Homo sapiens: one gene and its partner. The protein of the gene in region 1 purifies or fractionates together with the protein of each later gene. This does not show direct contact. Each region holds a gene or a part of one and is shown on either strand. Other genes may lie near its edges.

What was found. Proteins that work in one complex are often made in the same cells at the same time.
Region 2: the proteins of SLC30A8 (region 1) and SLC25A12 purify together in Homo sapiens (affinity purification with mass spectrometry; one large-scale study listed by BioGRID and IntAct). This does not show direct contact.

What each region holds. Positions count from the first base shown.
Region 1 is NC_000008.11:117,169,495-117,175,168, forward strand, and holds part of SLC30A8 (proton-coupled zinc antiporter SLC30A8), read left to right. Parts: intron 1-1,539; coding exon 1,540-1,674; intron 1,675-3,041; coding exon 3,042-3,187; 3' UTR 3,188-5,674. UniProt on the Homo sapiens protein: Proton-coupled zinc ion antiporter mediating the entry of zinc into the lumen of pancreatic beta cell secretory granules, thereby regulating insulin secretion.
Region 2 is NC_000002.12:171,786,234-171,789,811, reverse strand, and holds part of SLC25A12 (electrogenic aspartate/glutamate antiporter SLC25A12, mitochondrial), read left to right. Parts: intron 1-1,864; coding exon 1,865-2,023; intron 2,024-2,150; coding exon 2,151-2,241; intron 2,242-3,578. UniProt on the Homo sapiens protein: Mitochondrial electrogenic aspartate/glutamate antiporter that favors efflux of aspartate and entry of glutamate and proton within the mitochondria as part of the malate-aspartate shuttle.

The DNA of each region.
Region 1 (5,674 bases):
TAATCCTCTGGGAAGCTTTTAAACAATGCTTATGCTCAGGCCTCCCATACCCAGTGTTATTAGGCTGTTCTCACATTGCTATAAAGAAATACCTGAGACTGGATAATTTATAAAGAAAATAAGGTTAATTGGCTCATGGTTCTGCAGGCTGTACAGGAAGCATGGTGGCATTTGCTTCTGGGGAGGCCTCAAGAAGCTTCCAATAGCGGCAAAAGGCAAAGGGGGAGAAGGCACGTCACATGATGGGAATGGAGCAAGGGCAAGGGAGGTGCTACACACTTTTAAATGACCAAATCTTGCAAGAACTCACTCATCATCGCAAAGACAGCACCAAGCCATGAGGGATCTGGCACCATGACCCAAACACCTCCCACCAGGCCCCATTTCCAGCATTAGGGATTACAATTCAACATGAGACACTGGCAAGGATAAATATGCAAACTATATCACCCAGAGATTCTGATTTAATTGTCTGGGGTTGGGGCTGGCTTTGGTATTTTTAAAAACATGTAGTCAGACTAGAGAACCACTGCAAAGCAGAGCTGCTCAGTGGCTCATGAATGTTGGTGCAGTGGTTCTCAATCTTGGCTGCCTGATAGAATCACCAAATGAGCATTGATGTTGGGCCTTATCCACAGAGATTCTGATTTAATTGGTCTTGGGTGTAACTTAGTCATCAGGATTTCTAAAATCTCCTCTGGTAATACTAATGTGCATCCAAGGTTGAAAACCACTCTGAAAGACTCTAGATTTTGGAGCTTCATCCATAGAAATTTCCTTTTAGGTCTGGAATGGAGTCGTGGTACATTTATTTTTAATAAACACCCCAGGTGTTTGTGTTGTTTGTACATAACTGAAGTAGAGGCTAAAAAAGGGCTGTACTTAGACATCTCTTCTACAGCATCCTCCAATGTAGCTAAAATAATAGAAAACTTACAAACCGAATAAGATGGTATTATACAATGTTAGGATCCTCTATTAGCACAGTTCACTAAATGACCTGTTGAGTAACTAATCTTTGTACAACATTGCTGTTCATAATGATTAGATATTTTCTGAATTGCTCCTCAAAGATCTCTGTGATCTATGTGTTGTTCTTAACACCCTTATTTTACTACAAATGTGCTGAGGGTCAGAGAAGTTCTGGGATTTGGGTAAATTCACAATAGTTGTCGTCAGGATGCTAACCCATGATTATTTGATACCAAATTTCATGTTATTTCATTTTACTTTCCAGAGTGTATATAAAGATAGTTGGAAAAGGCACAGTTAGTTTAATAGTATACCATAAAAACTAAGGATAATTACCATTGTTGGTTATTGCATAGTAAATTCTGCAAGTATTCTGAGTGGGAAATTTTGATTGATGGTAAACCTTGAAGTAGTCAGGTAAATCTTATTTGTAAACATTTGAAGTAAGAAACCAGCAAAGGGATGAACACATTGAAATTTTGGTGAGGACTTTGCAGCTTGTTTAGGTAATTCAATGAGCTGTATCTAGTTGAATAACTACAGCCTCCATCTCTTCCCTTTTGTCAGGTGTGCCAAAGAGCCTGAATTACAGTGGTGTGAAAGAGCTTATTTTAGCAGTCGACGGGGTGCTGTCTGTGCACAGCCTGCACATCTGGTCTCTAACAATGAATCAAGTAATTCTCTCAGCTCATGTTGCTACAGGTCAGTGAGTTTTGTAAACACCCTGGAAAAAATTCAGTCCTTGTCCTGTAAAGTCAGTAATTTCCCTTCTTTTTGTAGAGCTGCCCTTATTGTCTGTTGCTTGTCAAAACATTATAAAGTGTTTTCTATTACCAAGGGCCTTTGAAACCAGCCCACTTATTGATGTTGTCATAGCAACAATGATACCCACGACATTCTTGGGGCTGACTGCAGAGGGCTGAGGACAGACAGAACAAAGGACTAAAATGCACCCGCCACTTCAAGGCCTTGGACTCTGAATATTCAACTTCATCTGTTTGGCTTGGTGCCCTATCAGTCAAATAATAGGAATGAATTAAAAACTTAATCTTAATTGAGTATCTCCTATGTATAAGATGTTTTTCCTGGCACTGAAAATAGGAAGATGAAAGAGACACCAGCCCCACTCTTAAATTTCTAACAAGCTAATGGATGTGCTAATAGGAATTATGGTGGGGTCCCACACTGTATGATTAGAAATTCTGTAGCCATGTGAGAAAATTCTTATAATACTAGGTTTATACTAAAATTACTTTTTCAAGAAGTTAATTTTGTCTCTGATATGTCCTAGAGCTGGGAGGATAGGCAGTGGGAGGGCATTTACTGCCTCAAGAGAAAGCTCAGGCCAAGGATAACACATTAGGCTGCTAAAAAATGACTCAAGGAGTTACTTAGGGGCAGGGGACAGGAACACTAGTGACAGTCATTTGAAAACTGTGCTTTCTCAGACATCGTCATCTTCTCGAAGGGGCTTAGGTCTGACTTGAGGGAATTTACAGCATTCACTATGCCAATATTTCACTGCAAATGGAAGAATCTAGTAAACACTCAGGTTGCTATGGAGGAGACTTTACAGCCTGCTGATAGCATTTGGGACAGGAAAAAAATGGCAGTGAGGGTTGCTGCTCTAAGAAAGGTCTGTGGGGAGCTCTAAACGCTTCCTGGTTCCTGTCACTATCCTTGATATAAATTCTGATTACATACAAAGCCTGCAACCCAGAGATCCCTGGGAGCTGGTGAGCAGGGCTGTATAAGAAATAATAGTTCTGTCTTGGCTTTTTCCAGGGCTTGTCTCCCCTTCCATAGTAAGCTCCTAGGAATGCCAGACTCCAGAGATAACAGTGGACAGAAAGAGTTCCCATAGCGACAGGGCACTTTGCTGCACTAGAGTTTCCCCTGCCTTGTCTGTGTGAATGTAGCTGATTATCAGAGCAAACGTGGCTTCCTCTGAGTGCCCTGCCTCTGCCCCACCCCAGCAGGTCAAAGACAAAGTACTTGAAGTTGGAGTCAGAGCAGTCGCCCATGCGTGTGCAATCAGTGCTAATCTCCCTGTGCTTCTTTATCAACAGCAGCCAGCCGGGACAGCCAAGTGGTTCGGAGAGAAATTGCTAAAGCCCTTAGCAAAAGCTTTACGATGCACTCACTCACCATTCAGATGGAATCTCCAGTTGACCAGGACCCCGACTGCCTTTTCTGTGAAGACCCCTGTGACTAGCTCAGTCACACCGTCAGTTTCCCAAATTTGACAGGCCACCTTCAAACATGCTGCTATGCAGTTTCTGCATCATAGAAAATAAGGAACCAAAGGAAGAAATTCATGTCATGGTGCAATGCACATTTTATCTATTTATTTAGTTCCATTCACCATGAAGGAAGAGGCACTGAGATCCATCAATCAATTGGATTATATACTGATCAGTAGCTGTGTTCAATTGCAGGAATGTGTATATAGATTATTCCTGAGTGGAGCCGAAGTAACAGCTGTTTGTAACTATCGGCAATACCAAATTCATCTCCCTTCCAATAATGCATCTTGAGAACACATAGGTAAATTTGAACTCAGGAAAGTCTTACTAGAAATCAGTGGAAGGGACAAATAGTCACAAAATTTTACCAAAACATTAGAAACAAAAAATAAGGAGAGCCAAGTCAGGAATAAAAGTGACTCTGTATGCTAACGCCACATTAGAACTTGGTTCTCTCACCAAGCTGTAATGTGATTTTTTTTTCTACTCTGAATTGGAAATATGTATGAATATACAGAGAAGTGCTTACAACTAATTTTTATTTACTTGTCACATTTTGGCAATAAATCCCTCTTATTTCTAAATTCTAACTTGTTTATTTCAAAACTTTATATAATCACTGTTCAAAAGGAAATATTTTCACCTACCAGAGTGCTTAAACACTGGCACCAGCCAAAGAATGTGGTTGTAGAGACCCAGAAGTCTTCAAGAACAGCCGACAAAAACATTCGAGTTGACCCCACCAAGTTGTTGCCACAGATAATTTAGATATTTACCTGCAAGAAGGAATAAAGCAGATGCAACCAATTCATTCAGTCCACGAGCATGATGTGAGCACTGCTTTGTGCTAGACATTGGGCTTAGCATTGAAACTATAAAGAGGAATCAGACGCAGCAAGTGCTTCTGTGTTCTGGTAGCAACTCAACACTATCTGTGGAGAGTAAACTGAAGATGTGCAGGCCAACATTCTGGAAATCCTATGTCAATGGGTTTGGTTTGGAACCTGGACTTCTGCATTTTTAAAAGTTACCCAGAGATGCTTCTAAAGATGAGCCATAGTCTAGAAGATTGTCAACCACAGGAGTTCATTGAGTGGGACAGCTAGACACATACATTGGCAGCTACAATAGTATCATGAATTGCAATGATGTAGTGGGGTATAAAAGGAAAGCGATGGATATTGCCGGATGGGCATGGCCAGTGATGTTTCACGTCATTGAGGTGACAGCTCTGCTGGACTTTGAATTACATATGGAGGCTCTCCAGGAAGACGAAGAAGAGAAGGACATTCTAGGCAAAAAGAAGACTAGGCACAAGGCACACTTATGTTTGTCTGTTAGCTTTTAGTTGAAAAAGCAAAATACATGATGCAAAGAAACCTCTCCACGCTGTGATTTTTAAAACTACATACTTTTTGCAACTTTATGGTTATGAGTATTGTAGAGAACAGGAGATAGGTCTTAGATGATTTTTATGTTGTTGTCAGACTCTAGCAAGGTACTAGAAACCTAGCAGGCATTAATAATTGTTGAGGCAATGACTCTGAGGCTATATCTGGGCCTTGTCATTATTTATCATTTATATTTGTATTTTTTTCTGAAATTTGAGGGCCAAGAAAACATTGACTTTGACTGAGGAGGTCACATCTGTGCCATCTCTGCAAATCAATCAGCACCACTGAAATAACTACTTAGCATTCTGCTGAGCTTTCCCTGCTCAGTAGAGACAAATATACTCATCCCCCACCTCAGTGAGCTTGTTTAGGCAACCAGGATTAGAGCTGCTCAGGTTCCCAACGTCTCCTGCCACATCGGGTTCTCAAAATGGAAAGAATGGTTTATGCCAAATCACTTTTCCTGTCTGAAGGACCACTGAATGGTTTTGTTTTTCCATATTTTGCATAGGACGCCCTAAAGACTAGGTGACTTGGCAAACACACAAGTGTTAGTATAATTCTTTGCTTCTGCTTCTTTTTGAAAATCATGTTTAGATTTGATTTTAAGTCAGAAATTCACTGAATGTCAGGTAATCATTATGGAGGGAGATTTGTGTGTCAACCAAAGTAATTGTCCCATGGCCCCAGGGTATTTCTGTTGTTTCCCTGAAATTCTGCTTTTTTAGTCAGCTAGATTGAAAACTCTGAACAGTAGATGTTTATATGGCAAAATGCAAGACAATCTACAAGGGAGATTTTAAGGATTTTGAGATGAAAAAACAGATGCTACTCAGGGGCTTTATGAACCATCCATCAATTCTGAAGTTCTGACTCTCCCATTACCCTTTCCCTGGTGTGGTCAGAACTCCAGGTCACTGGAAGTTAGTGGAATCATGTAGTTGAATTCTTTACTTCAAGACATTGTATTCTCTCCAGCTATCAAAACATTAATGATCTTTTATGTCTTTTTTTTGTTATTGTTATACTTTAAGTTCTGGGGTACATGTGCGGAACATGTAG
Region 2 (3,578 bases), on another chromosome or scaffold:
AGCGATTCTCCTGTGTCAGCCTCCCAAGTAGTTGGGACTACAGGCGTGTACCACCATGCCTGGCCAATTTTTGTATTTTTAGTAAAGACAGGGTTTCACCATGTTGGCCAGCACAGCTGGTCAGAGCCACACTGAGCTCTGTAATGGTTCATTACTGGTTGTATAGAGAGCAAACATGCACCCCTTCCTTCCTTTGTCTTTTCGGAGTGTTGGTGCAGCCAAGGACACCTGGTTCTCTCCTCCTTTTCCAAATCAGCTCCTTCCTAACTCAAGAGTCAGGCTGAGGCCGAGCTTGGTGGCTCATTCCTGTAATCCCAGCACTTTGGGAGGCCAAGGCGGGCAGATCACGAGGTCAGGAGATCGAGACCATCCTGGCTAACACGGTGAAACCCCGTCTCTACTAAAAATACAAAAAATTAGCCGGGCGTGGTGGCGGGCTTCTGTAGTCCCAGCTACTGGGGAGGCTGAGGCAGGAGAATGGCATGAACCTGGGAGGCGGAGCTTGCAGTGAGCCGAGATTGTGCCACTGCACTCCAGCCTGGGCGACAGAGTGAGACTGTCTCAAAAAAAAAAGAGAGTCAGGCTGTAAATGTGAGGTCTCAAACTCCTGACCTCAGGTGATCCTCCCATCTTGGCCTTCCAAAGTGCTGGGATTACAAGCGTGAACCACCACACTTGGCCCAGTCTCCTACTTTTAAATGGGGGCAGCATTTGCCTTCCAGGCTTTTCCTTGTGCTTTCCAATCAACAATGAAAAACAGCCAGAGAAGAAGAGTCTAATTGTGGACAGGTGTTTGCAAGTGGTTGAACCAAGTAAATATTTCCATGGAACTGTCAGCACCGACTTCTTCCCCATAGACATTTGATGTCAGTTTTCAGAATGAGATTATTTTTTCTAATTTTTACCAGTCAAGCTTTGCTAGCAGGAACTGAGAACATTCAGAAGTCTGCCTCCAAAGGCAGGAAGTTTACCTAGTTTCATCTGAATAGGGTGCAAGGCCATGCCAAGGGGAAGTATTTGCATTATTCCCTAGCAGAACCTCGTACAAGGCTGCCAACTCCATCCGCCTAGTGAGGATACAGTGATATTCAGGCCAAATTGAATTTCTTCCCCCGGGGAAGATTATTTTGCTCCTTTGCTCTCTGTTTTGTTTTATAAGTAAAAGGTGTGGTTGTGAAATCCATCTTTTGTGTCCTGCTGCTGATCAATCTCAACATGACCCCAGGGAGCTCGGGCACAGGGGCCTTTCCCTGACCAGCTCCCCTGTTGTTTCTTAACTGGCTGCCTGGCCACCTCTTGCTCCAGTTGTAATGACTTTTGTCATGTAAGCATGTCTGAAAGGAGTCACAGTCAACTCTCAAGGTAGCCCTTCAAACAAGCGAGTGATTATAAGTATTGATATTCACTTCCCACACTACGACAAGAATCAGCAAAAACAGTAGTTTGGTGTCAGATACATTTAGTGACTCACTAAGATGACATTATCATTTTTTTATACATAAAAATACTTGTATCTTATTTAAGAAAAAAAGGAGGTAAAATAATTGAAACTGAAAGGGAACGCTTGGGAATTGTCTTATTAATATTGCTACTTTTTTTTTCTCTCTCACAGTTATTTGGGATCATGCAATGTAGAGTGATTTTTTTTTTAATTCAGGAAAAAATAATAATAATTTTCCCCTGATCACACTGCAACAGCTAATAGGCTTCTATGCCCTTTTCCCATTAATGGCCAGACATCTATGTAAAGAGTTTTGAGTTCCGCTCAAGTGGTTGAAGTTGCAGGCTCTATAGTAGATGTTAGCAGTATTCCTATCTTTTATAAGGTACTCTAGATAAATTAAATGTGGTTTTCTCCTGAAAGGTGTCCCAGCTGCATCTCTGGTGACCCCTGCTGATGTCATCAAGACAAGACTGCAGGTGGCTGCCCGCGCTGGCCAGACGACATACAGTGGTGTCATCGACTGTTTCAGGAAGATTCTCCGGGAAGAAGGGCCCTCAGCATTTTGGAAAGGGACTGCAGGTAGGCAGGGGCTGGAGCCATACAGAATGGCTGGCTGGCTCTAGCGTCCTCCCCTGTGACTCAGTGGCTATCTTTACCACATTTGTCCTGGTTTCAAGTCTCCCCTGCCCCTGCTTCTCTTTTTCAGCTCGAGTGTTTCGATCCTCTCCCCAGTTTGGTGTTACCTTGGTCACTTATGAACTTCTCCAGCGGTGGTTTTACATTGATTTTGGAGGCCTGTAAGTCAGCTGCTCAACTCCTTTACAAAGAAATCACTAAGTCCAAAACAAATGTTTGTTCTGTCTACAAAAGCATTGTTGCAACTCTTAGAAAACTGATAAGACAGAACCTTTAAGACCAATGCATTTAAAACAGTGAGCTTAAGAAGCATTTGTGTTAAGCAAGTAAAACTTGACAGAGTGACATCGTACATAATATTAAGCAGCTATTTGGGGGATTTTAGGGAAGCAGCAAATTTTTTTAAAAAAGACAGGATATCCTCTGTTGCCCAGGCTGGAGTGCAGTGGCATGTTCTTGGCTCACCGTAGCCTCAACCTCCCGGGCTCAAGCGATCCTCCCACCTCAGCCTCCTGAGTAGCTGGGACCACAGAGGCATGCCACCACACCCAGCTAATTTTTGTACTTTTTTATAGAGATGGGATCTCACTGTGTTGCCCAGGCTGGTCTCGAACTCCACCAGCCTTGGCCTCCCAAAGTGCTGGGATTACAGACATGAGCTACCGTGCCTAGCCAGGAGGCAGCAGATTAAAATGCTGTGTAAATAATTGTCTTTTTTCACATAAGCAAATACTGAACTTCATGGCGTTCTCATTATGTGGATTTTATTATATGGCCCTTTCACAGAAGTAATGTAAATGTATACCAGTAACACTTTTGTGCATTTTCTTTCAAAGTCCCAAGCCCTTTTGCATCTCTGATATTTCATTATTCACCACAATTTATTATTAGTTAGGTGCAGATGTTCTTGAAGCTAATTTACTGGAAAAACCAATAGGTTTGAAGAGAGATTTTGCCCATGGATATAATCACTAGTGAGCTGTAGGCCAGAAATTGGGCTTCTAAAAGCTTACCACTTGAAGCTTGCACTGAGAAGAAGAATTACAAGTTGAATTTTCTGGGTGGGGAAGTTGTACCCAAAGCAAGCAATTATTAGCTTTTCAGCAGAAGACCAAGTACCATTCCTGAGTCCTCACATCAGAAACCTGTGAACTCCTCTGTGCCCAAAGGCCATATAGGGAATCAGCTGCTGAACCAAGTGGAGGGACCTATGCAAAAAAAGTGAGAACAGCAGTCTTACAGTTGCATTGTAGAAATGTGAGGCTTCAGGCTTTTCCATGCTTCTTTCATCTTCTGTAAAAGAACTAAAGCTATTTCTCTCTCTCTCTTTTTTTTTTTTTTTTTTTTTTAGACGGAGTCTTGCTCTGTCGCCCAGGCTGGAGTGCAGTGGTACGATCTCGGCTCACTGCAACCTCCACCTCCCAGGTTCAAGTGATTCTCCTGCCTCAGCCTCCTGAGAAGCTGGGACTAAGGGCGCCCACCACCGCGCCTGGCTAAT